Homo sapiens: one gene and its partner. The protein of the gene in region 1 interacts with the protein of each later gene in a biochemical or structural test. Each region holds a gene or a part of one and is shown on either strand. Other genes may lie near its edges. The genes, in order: NUDT7 and PEX5.

The links.
Region 2: the proteins of NUDT7 (region 1) and PEX5 interact in a test that uses a peptide from one of them, tested with the Homo sapiens proteins (one large-scale study listed by BioGRID).

The regions. Positions count from the first base shown.
Region 1 is NC_000016.10:77,721,202-77,725,561, reverse strand, and holds the start of NUDT7 (peroxisomal coenzyme A diphosphatase NUDT7), read right to left. Parts: upstream 3,049-4,360; 5' UTR 2,980-3,048; coding exon 2,945-2,979; intron 132-2,944; coding exon 1-131. UniProt on the Homo sapiens protein: Fatty acyl-coenzyme A (CoA) diphosphatase that hydrolyzes fatty acyl-CoA to yield acyl-4'-phosphopantetheine and adenosine 3',5'-bisphosphate. Cleaves CoA, CoA esters and oxidized CoA with similar efficiencies.
Region 2 is NC_000012.12:7,206,426-7,209,380, reverse strand, and holds part of PEX5 (peroxisomal biogenesis factor 5), read right to left. Parts: intron 1,723-2,955; coding exon 1,579-1,722; intron 1,372-1,578; coding exon 1,301-1,371; intron 925-1,300; coding exon 712-924; intron 377-711; coding exon 211-376; intron 1-210.

The DNA of each region.
Region 1 (4,360 bases):
ACAAATGGAGTTTTCCTTCTTTAGCCACCAATGGCAAAAGGACGGAGTATTTGTTATATGGCAAGTGAGAATATTTGCCTCCAATATCATACTTTCTTAAGCGGGCCTTAGCATCATCTAGCAAACTGTTTCTAAAATAAAAACAAACCAGACAGACATTTTAGCAAGCAGAGTTATGGTAAAAAGCTTATAGTCCTGCCTCTGTTTCTGCTTTGTTGTGTATTTAGGAGTTTGCCATTTCTGACTCTCTGTGTATTTTTCAATAACACGACAGAAATGATACTATCTAAATTGCGTGGTTGTTCGCAAGATGAAAATGACAAAAAAACCTTCTAAGCACACAGTTTAGTACACAGGTTCTCTTTGAAACATAAAGTATGGTAAAATGTTTTTTCAATAATGCAACAGTTGAATTTTGAAACCCATAATTATATTCAGAGAAGACAGGTTTGATGAAAAAGTCATTGTTAAGGTTAGAAGGTTAGAAGACTACCTTCTGTTAAGCTGGCCCTTATGTTCTCAAACTCTTATGTCTTCAACTGCTTATAATAGTGGTTCCCAAGCTTTAGCAGCAACAGAATCACCTGGAGCGCTGGCTGTCACATAGACTGCGAGGTTCAGTCCCAGACTGTGACTCAGTAACTCTGGTGTAGGGCCTGAGAATTAGCATTTGTATCAAACTCCCTCATGACAGCGTTACTGACGCTGTGGACAGGGGAACACATTCTGAGAACAATTTCCCAATAATATGCAAGCATTTGGATTTAAAACCGCAAATGGTGCCCTTCCTATGTGGACTTGTTTTGGTCCTTTTGACAGGTGTGTTCTACTGCTAGTTTGTATAGTGGGTTGAACAGTATCCCCTCACCCCTGAAATTCATGTCTACCCCAAACTTCAGAGTGTGACTTTATTCAGAAATAGGATCTTTTCAGATGTAATTAAAGTGAGCTCTAAATCCAATGACTGTTGTCCTGATAAGAAGCAGAAACGAGCCCAGTGCAGCGGCTCACGCCTGTAATCCCAACACTGGGAGGTTGAGGCGGGAGAATTGCTTGGGCCCAGGAGTTTGAAACCAGCCTGGTCAACATGGTAAGACCCTGTCTCTACAAAAGAAAAAAAAAAAAAGCATAAATTAGCTTAGGCATGGGGCATGCAACTGTATTCCCAGCTACTTGGAAGGCGGAAGTGGGAGGATCACTTGAGCCCCAGAGTTCAAGGCTGCAGTGAGCCATGATTGCACCACTGCACTCCGGCCTGGGTGACAGAGTGAGACCTGACTCAAAAATAAAATAAAATAAAAGAAGAAAAAACATGGAGAGATGCACACAGGGAAGAAGACCATGTGAAGATGGCGGCAGAGGTTGAAGTGATGCTGCTGTGAGCCAAGGAATGCCAGAAACCACCAGAAACTGGAAGAGGCAAGGAAAGGTCACCCCCAGAGCCTTCTAAGGGAGTGAGGCCCTGCCGATACCTTGATTTTGGACTTCCAGGCTTCATAGCCATGAGAGACCATTTCTATTGTTTTAAAACACCCAGTGTGTGGTACTCTGTTATGGCAGCCCTAGAAAAGGAACAGCTGATTTTACTTTTTCTGTGGGAAGGCAGCTTTGCATAGTGGGCAGAATCAGCTATTTAAGATACCCAGAATTGGCTTCAAATGTATATAGGAGGCCTGGTACAGTGGCTCATGCCTGTAATCCCGGCACTTTGGGAGACTGAGGAAGGTGAATCACTTGAAGTCAGGAGTTCGAGACCAGCCTGGCCAACATGGTAAAACCCCACCTCTACTAAACATACAAAAATTAGCCGGGCATCGTGGCACATGCCTGTAATCCCAGCTACTCAGAAGGTTGAGGCAGGAGAATCGCTTGAACCCAGGAGGCAGAGGCTGCAGTGAGCCGAGATTGCCTACTGCACTGTAGCCAGGGCGGCAGAGTGAGACTCTGTCTCAAAAAAAAAAAAAAAAAAGTGTATACAAATGACTTCTCTGAGTTTCATCTTCATTTGTGTCAGGCTTGAGGATATTTAAGAAGATTAAATGATGCAGTTCATATACTGTGGCTGGCACACAGCTGGTGCTCAGGGAATGGTAACCACTGTCATAAATCTCCCCATCATTAGATAAGCAGTTGTTTGCAGGAGGTATTTGCTATTTTTTGCCTCTTTCTAGGTGGCAGGGTGCTCACCAGATGTGGTTGGGTAACGGCAGTGTATTTCAAAGACCAAATGGCCTGAAAAAAATCAGTGAATGCTGGCACAGGGATTGCACAGTGCATCTGGATGCACGCAGGCCAGCCTCCAGAAAAGGAAACTGTGGGCTGGTGGCTTTTAACCACCCGGAAACCACAGAACTGACCAGACAAACCAGCCAAAGTAAAAGGCTGCAAAAACGTTATCTGTCCACTTTAGGGGCTGGCCGCTGGAATAATCACCAAGGTATCAACAGCAGTAGCAGCCACCCCGTTCTGAGCATGGTCTCAATTTTGACGTTTCTCATTTTATCCTCACAACAGCCCGGCAAGTGATCACAGGGTCACCTCCAGGCTCAGAGAGTTTACGAAACTGACAGACCCAAGGTCACAACTGAAAGTAGCCACCGGGGGACTTGAATCCGGGGCTGCCTGCTGCGGGTCTGTGCCACTGTCGGGGGTCCTGGGGTCCAACTCTGGAGACGCGGATTGCAGAACAGCCAAGCCGGCTGGGAAGGGGAGCAGCGTGTATGTAAACCATACTGGCTTAAGCCGGCTCTGTTCCTGGCCAGAGCAGTGCAAAGGTTCGGGGACCCTGCGGGTTGCTGGAGGCGAGTGCTCCCCCATCCGGCGCTCGCAGGTGGACTGGCGGGAGCTGCAAAATCAGTCCCGGCCAAAAGGCCCCGGTGGCCTCCGCTACGATCAAGGCCGGGCCTGACCAAGCTCGGGGTGCCAGGGCCCGGAAAGCCTTTACCTGACTGGCTCCTCGGGAAGACCAAGTCGTGACATTGCCCTGGGGAATGTTTGTTTCCGGGCGGACTCCTCGGAGCTGCTCGGTCGGTCGCGCTTGCGCAGAGCAGCTCTGGGCTTGGGAGCGGCCTAAAGCCAGAGAGAGGGGCGGGGCTTAGAGCACGAGGCGGGGTGGTGTCTGGGGCGGAGACAGGGGGCGGGGCGGTGCGAGATCTGGGATCGGAGGCCGGGATCGGGGCGGGGCGGGGCTTATAGCCAGAGGCGGGACTTGAGGTGGGGAGAGGCGCGGGGCGGGACTTAGGGCCGGGTGTTCCTGGTTGCTCAAAGCAGTTTCTGCCGGGCTCCTTGGGCTTCTATGGAAGCAAGAGGTATAGGAGGAGTTGTGGAATTTAGAGCTGGAAGAGTTAAAAAAAAAAAAAATACAGTGTTGGTGAGGTGATAATATTTTACACTCGCATTCGCTGTTGCTGGAAGGTTAAGGTGATTCATTCAACTTTTTGGAACTGCTGTCAGCACCTGTTCACCGACCACCTGTATGCACTGGGTGCAGATCCCACAGCTAGCGAAAAGACACGTGGAGCTCACAGTCAAATGGTAGAAACATAAATTAATCACACAGGGCTGGATGCAGTGGCATATGCTTGTAATTCCAACACTTTGGGAGGCCAAGAGGGGAGGATCACTTGAATCCAGGAGTTCGAGCCCAGCCTGGGCAACATGGCGAAACCCCATCTCTACAAAATAAAAATAAAAAATTAGCCAGGCGTGGTGGCACACACCTGTGGTCCCAGCTACTCAAGAGGCTGAGGTGGGAGGATCGCTTGAGCCCAGGAGGTCGAAGCTGCAGTGAGCCGTGATAGCACCACTGCACTCCAGCCTGACAGAGGTAGACCGTCTCAAAAATAAGAAGAAGAAGATAAGAAGTTTTTAATGCAAAAAAAAAAAAAAAAAAAAATCACACTGATAAAGCAGTGGCCTTTGGTCCTTCTAGAGCGTGTGAAGGAGAAATGTGACCCAATTAGGAGACAGAAGAGGCTTGGTAGAGGAAATAGAAGTGCAGCTCATCTTGAAAGCAGTAGTTCTCAAAGTGTGGTCCTCAGACCAGCAGAATCAGGATCACTTTGGTCCTGTTAAAAATGTGGACTCTGGGCCAGGCGCTGTGGCTCACACCTGTAATCCCAGCACTTTGGGAGGCCAAGTCGGGTGGATCACCTAAGGTCAGGAGTTTGAGACCAGCTTGGCCAACATGGTGAAACCCCATCTCTACTAAAAAAACAAAAATTAGCCAGTGGCAGGCGCCTGTAATCTCAGCTACTAGGAGGCTGAGGCAGGAGAATCGCTTGAACCTGGGAGGCGGAGTTTGCAGTGGGCCGAGATCGCGCCATTGCACTCCAGCCTGGGCAAAAAAAAGCGAAACTCT
Region 2 (2,955 bases), on another chromosome or scaffold:
TGAACAAATTATTCTTTTTTGTGGGGGTGGGCAGGGTCTTGCTATGTTGCCCAGGCTGGATTTGAACTCCCAGGCTCAAGTGATCCTCCCACTTCAGCCTCCCAAGTAGCTGGGACTACAGGCATGCACCATCAAACCCAGCTTCCCAACAAATGGCTCTTCAATAAGGTACACAGTCATGTCCCATTTCCATTCCTCCCCTGGGCTCACATTGGGACGAACGCTGAGGGCAGCTGTGAAGCAGTCCACGGCCTTGTCATACTCCCCACTCAGGTTGAAAAGGACTCCCAAGCCACACTGCACATCAGGGTCAATGGAGGTAGGGTCCAGCCGCACAGCTGCCAGGAAGAGCTCTTTCACTTCAAGAAACAGGGAGCTGGATGAAAAGGAAAAAAACACAAAGTAGGTAGATGAATGTCTCTATTCCCATCCCCCCAAATTAATTTCTTCATTGATCAACCATATCCCCAACATTCATCAATCTATCAGTCATCTCTTCTACTCTCAAAGTCCAATATAGAAGCCTGTTTTTCTATTTCATCCTAGCACTGAACTGTAGAATGCAGACCTCCTTCAACTTGATCCTAGGTTTCCCATCCCATTCTCAGGACCCTTCAGTCTCAATCCATCCAAACTTCCAAAACCAAGGTCACCCTCCTACTGGGACTTAGGTTACTGTAATTCCTCATCCTAGGAACCCCTCATACTCACTCAGACAAGAGAGATCCCAGGATACGCTTGCTGGGGCCCAGTCCTGCCCCACCAGCCCCTTCTTCAGCAGGTGTCACCAGATGGGCATAGGCTGGTGTGTACCGCAGCCAGTCTCGTAGGGTTTCACAGGCCTGTCGCTGCAGGGACTCGTTGGTGAAGCTCACAGCCAGCGCCATCAGTGCTGTCTGGTTATCTGGCTTTAGCTCCAGACACCTGTTTGATCAGGGATGGGCAGACTTGATATCTGCAATGACTGACACTGGCACATGTGAGCACCCTGGGATCCAAGCCAAGCTTTGAAATGCAGAGTCACAATGGCCTCACCTGTGACTCCTCTGACATGAGTTAATAATAAAGTTACAGATCTAAGGGGAAGGTTTTAGCAGGCAAGGAGCCAACCAAAGCCGCAAATAAAATCAAAAGCCGATGAAGGAATGGAATTCACTCCAACCCTCAGAGTTTCAGCATGAGAAAACACTCTTGATAGCACTCAGAAAGAAGACAAGGATCCAGGTCTGGGCTTCTGTCATTCAAAAGGTTATATGCAGAGCCTTGGAAGCACCTCACCCACACCTTTCAGTGTACTCACCTCCGCAATGCACTGATGGCTAATAGTTCTTGTTCATTCTCTGCCTGGGTGGTACCCAGATACTGCCAAGCCTAGAGGGAAGTTGACAGATTCCATCACCCCATATTCACCTCTCCATTCGCCCTTCCCCCTGGCTTCTCCCACTCACCATCTCGCTCTCAAGCCCCTATCCTAGGCCATCACCCAGGCCCTAACCCATCTGCACTACTCTCCTTGGGGCCTTTCTCAAGATGGAGGAAGCAGTCTCTAGCCAGAAATGAGACTATGGAGTCACTCACTTCCATGTGCTTAGGATCCTGCTGCACAGCTGCCTCAAAAAGCAGCACAGCATTTGGCAGGTCCCCCTCCTGAAGGCGCCGCAGCCCTTCTTCAAAAGGCTGAGGGTGATCACGCAAGGGGTTCTCCTCCTCAAACTGGTACCCCTACAAGAAAAGCACGTGAGAGATGGACTGAGAGGTGGCACCGTCAGAACAGCAGGGATGTGAGGATGACAACCAGCAGGCAGAGAAGCTGAGGGCCTCCAAACAGGTTCCGGAATTAATTGCTGGCAAATTCTCCATATTATAAAGATCATGTATGACACAAGTAAAATCATTTGGTATCAGGTTTGTGCTCCCATCTCCTGTTCATGATACCTGGGAAGCTAGGAAAGTCTACAAATTCATCTGCGCTGGAAATAAGCTTATTTTAGGAAGTCATCACAGGCTTGTATTCCCACACCTTGACTTCTCACCACGGGGCAGAATGTCTCAACAGGATCTGCTTATAGTAATGAGACAAAGTGTCCCTAGCTATGCAAAGTGCATTTCTTGTTATCCTTCAATAATGTGATGATGTATAAAGGAAATGTTGTTTGGAGTCCTGCTATTCAAATATAACTCTTACTTAGCTCAGAGTCATTCCACATGTCAACTAGATAAAACATTTTCAAGCATTTTGAAAATGTTAATTTATTCCCCGATTTCATTCTTAATAATCATGAATATTAATCTGTATCTGACAGTAAGCAAAAGCTGGATCCCAAAATCCAGATGGCAGAGAATACTTCAGAAAGACACCATTCTCTTCCAGCTGAGGATTTCTCACTTTAGAGAAGAGTTACGATACTATCTGCAAAGCTTTGTCAACTGGCATTTTACACTAGGCAGAGAAGAAATGAGGTAAAGGGGAAGTCACTAGTAAGCTGCAAAATCTGGGACATGCAAATAAAAAGTCCGTTTTTGGAGAGTAGTTACCATCATAAAATAATACACCAGAACGAAAACAAGATGCAAAACAACAGGTGGAGGTCTTTCTAAATGCAGTTAAGAATAAATTCAGATAAAACTGTACAAAATAAAGACATGAGGCCCTTTTTCATTATTATTGTGAAAATGATAAAGAATCAAAAACACTTAAATCTTACCAGCAAAATTCTAAGTCATGATCAGATGCAAATTATTTGTCACAAATGAAAATTAAATAATTACAATGGGGGGTTTAAGAAGAAAGACATATTATAGTAGATTTGAGATAAATGTATAGAAAGTATATTTATATTGAAAACAAGTGTGTTTTTGGACATCTCTGCATAATATAAAAACTAAGAAGGCAGAAAATGACGCTAGTCCAGTGATCAGCAAACTTTTTCTGCGAAGGGCCAGATAATAAATATT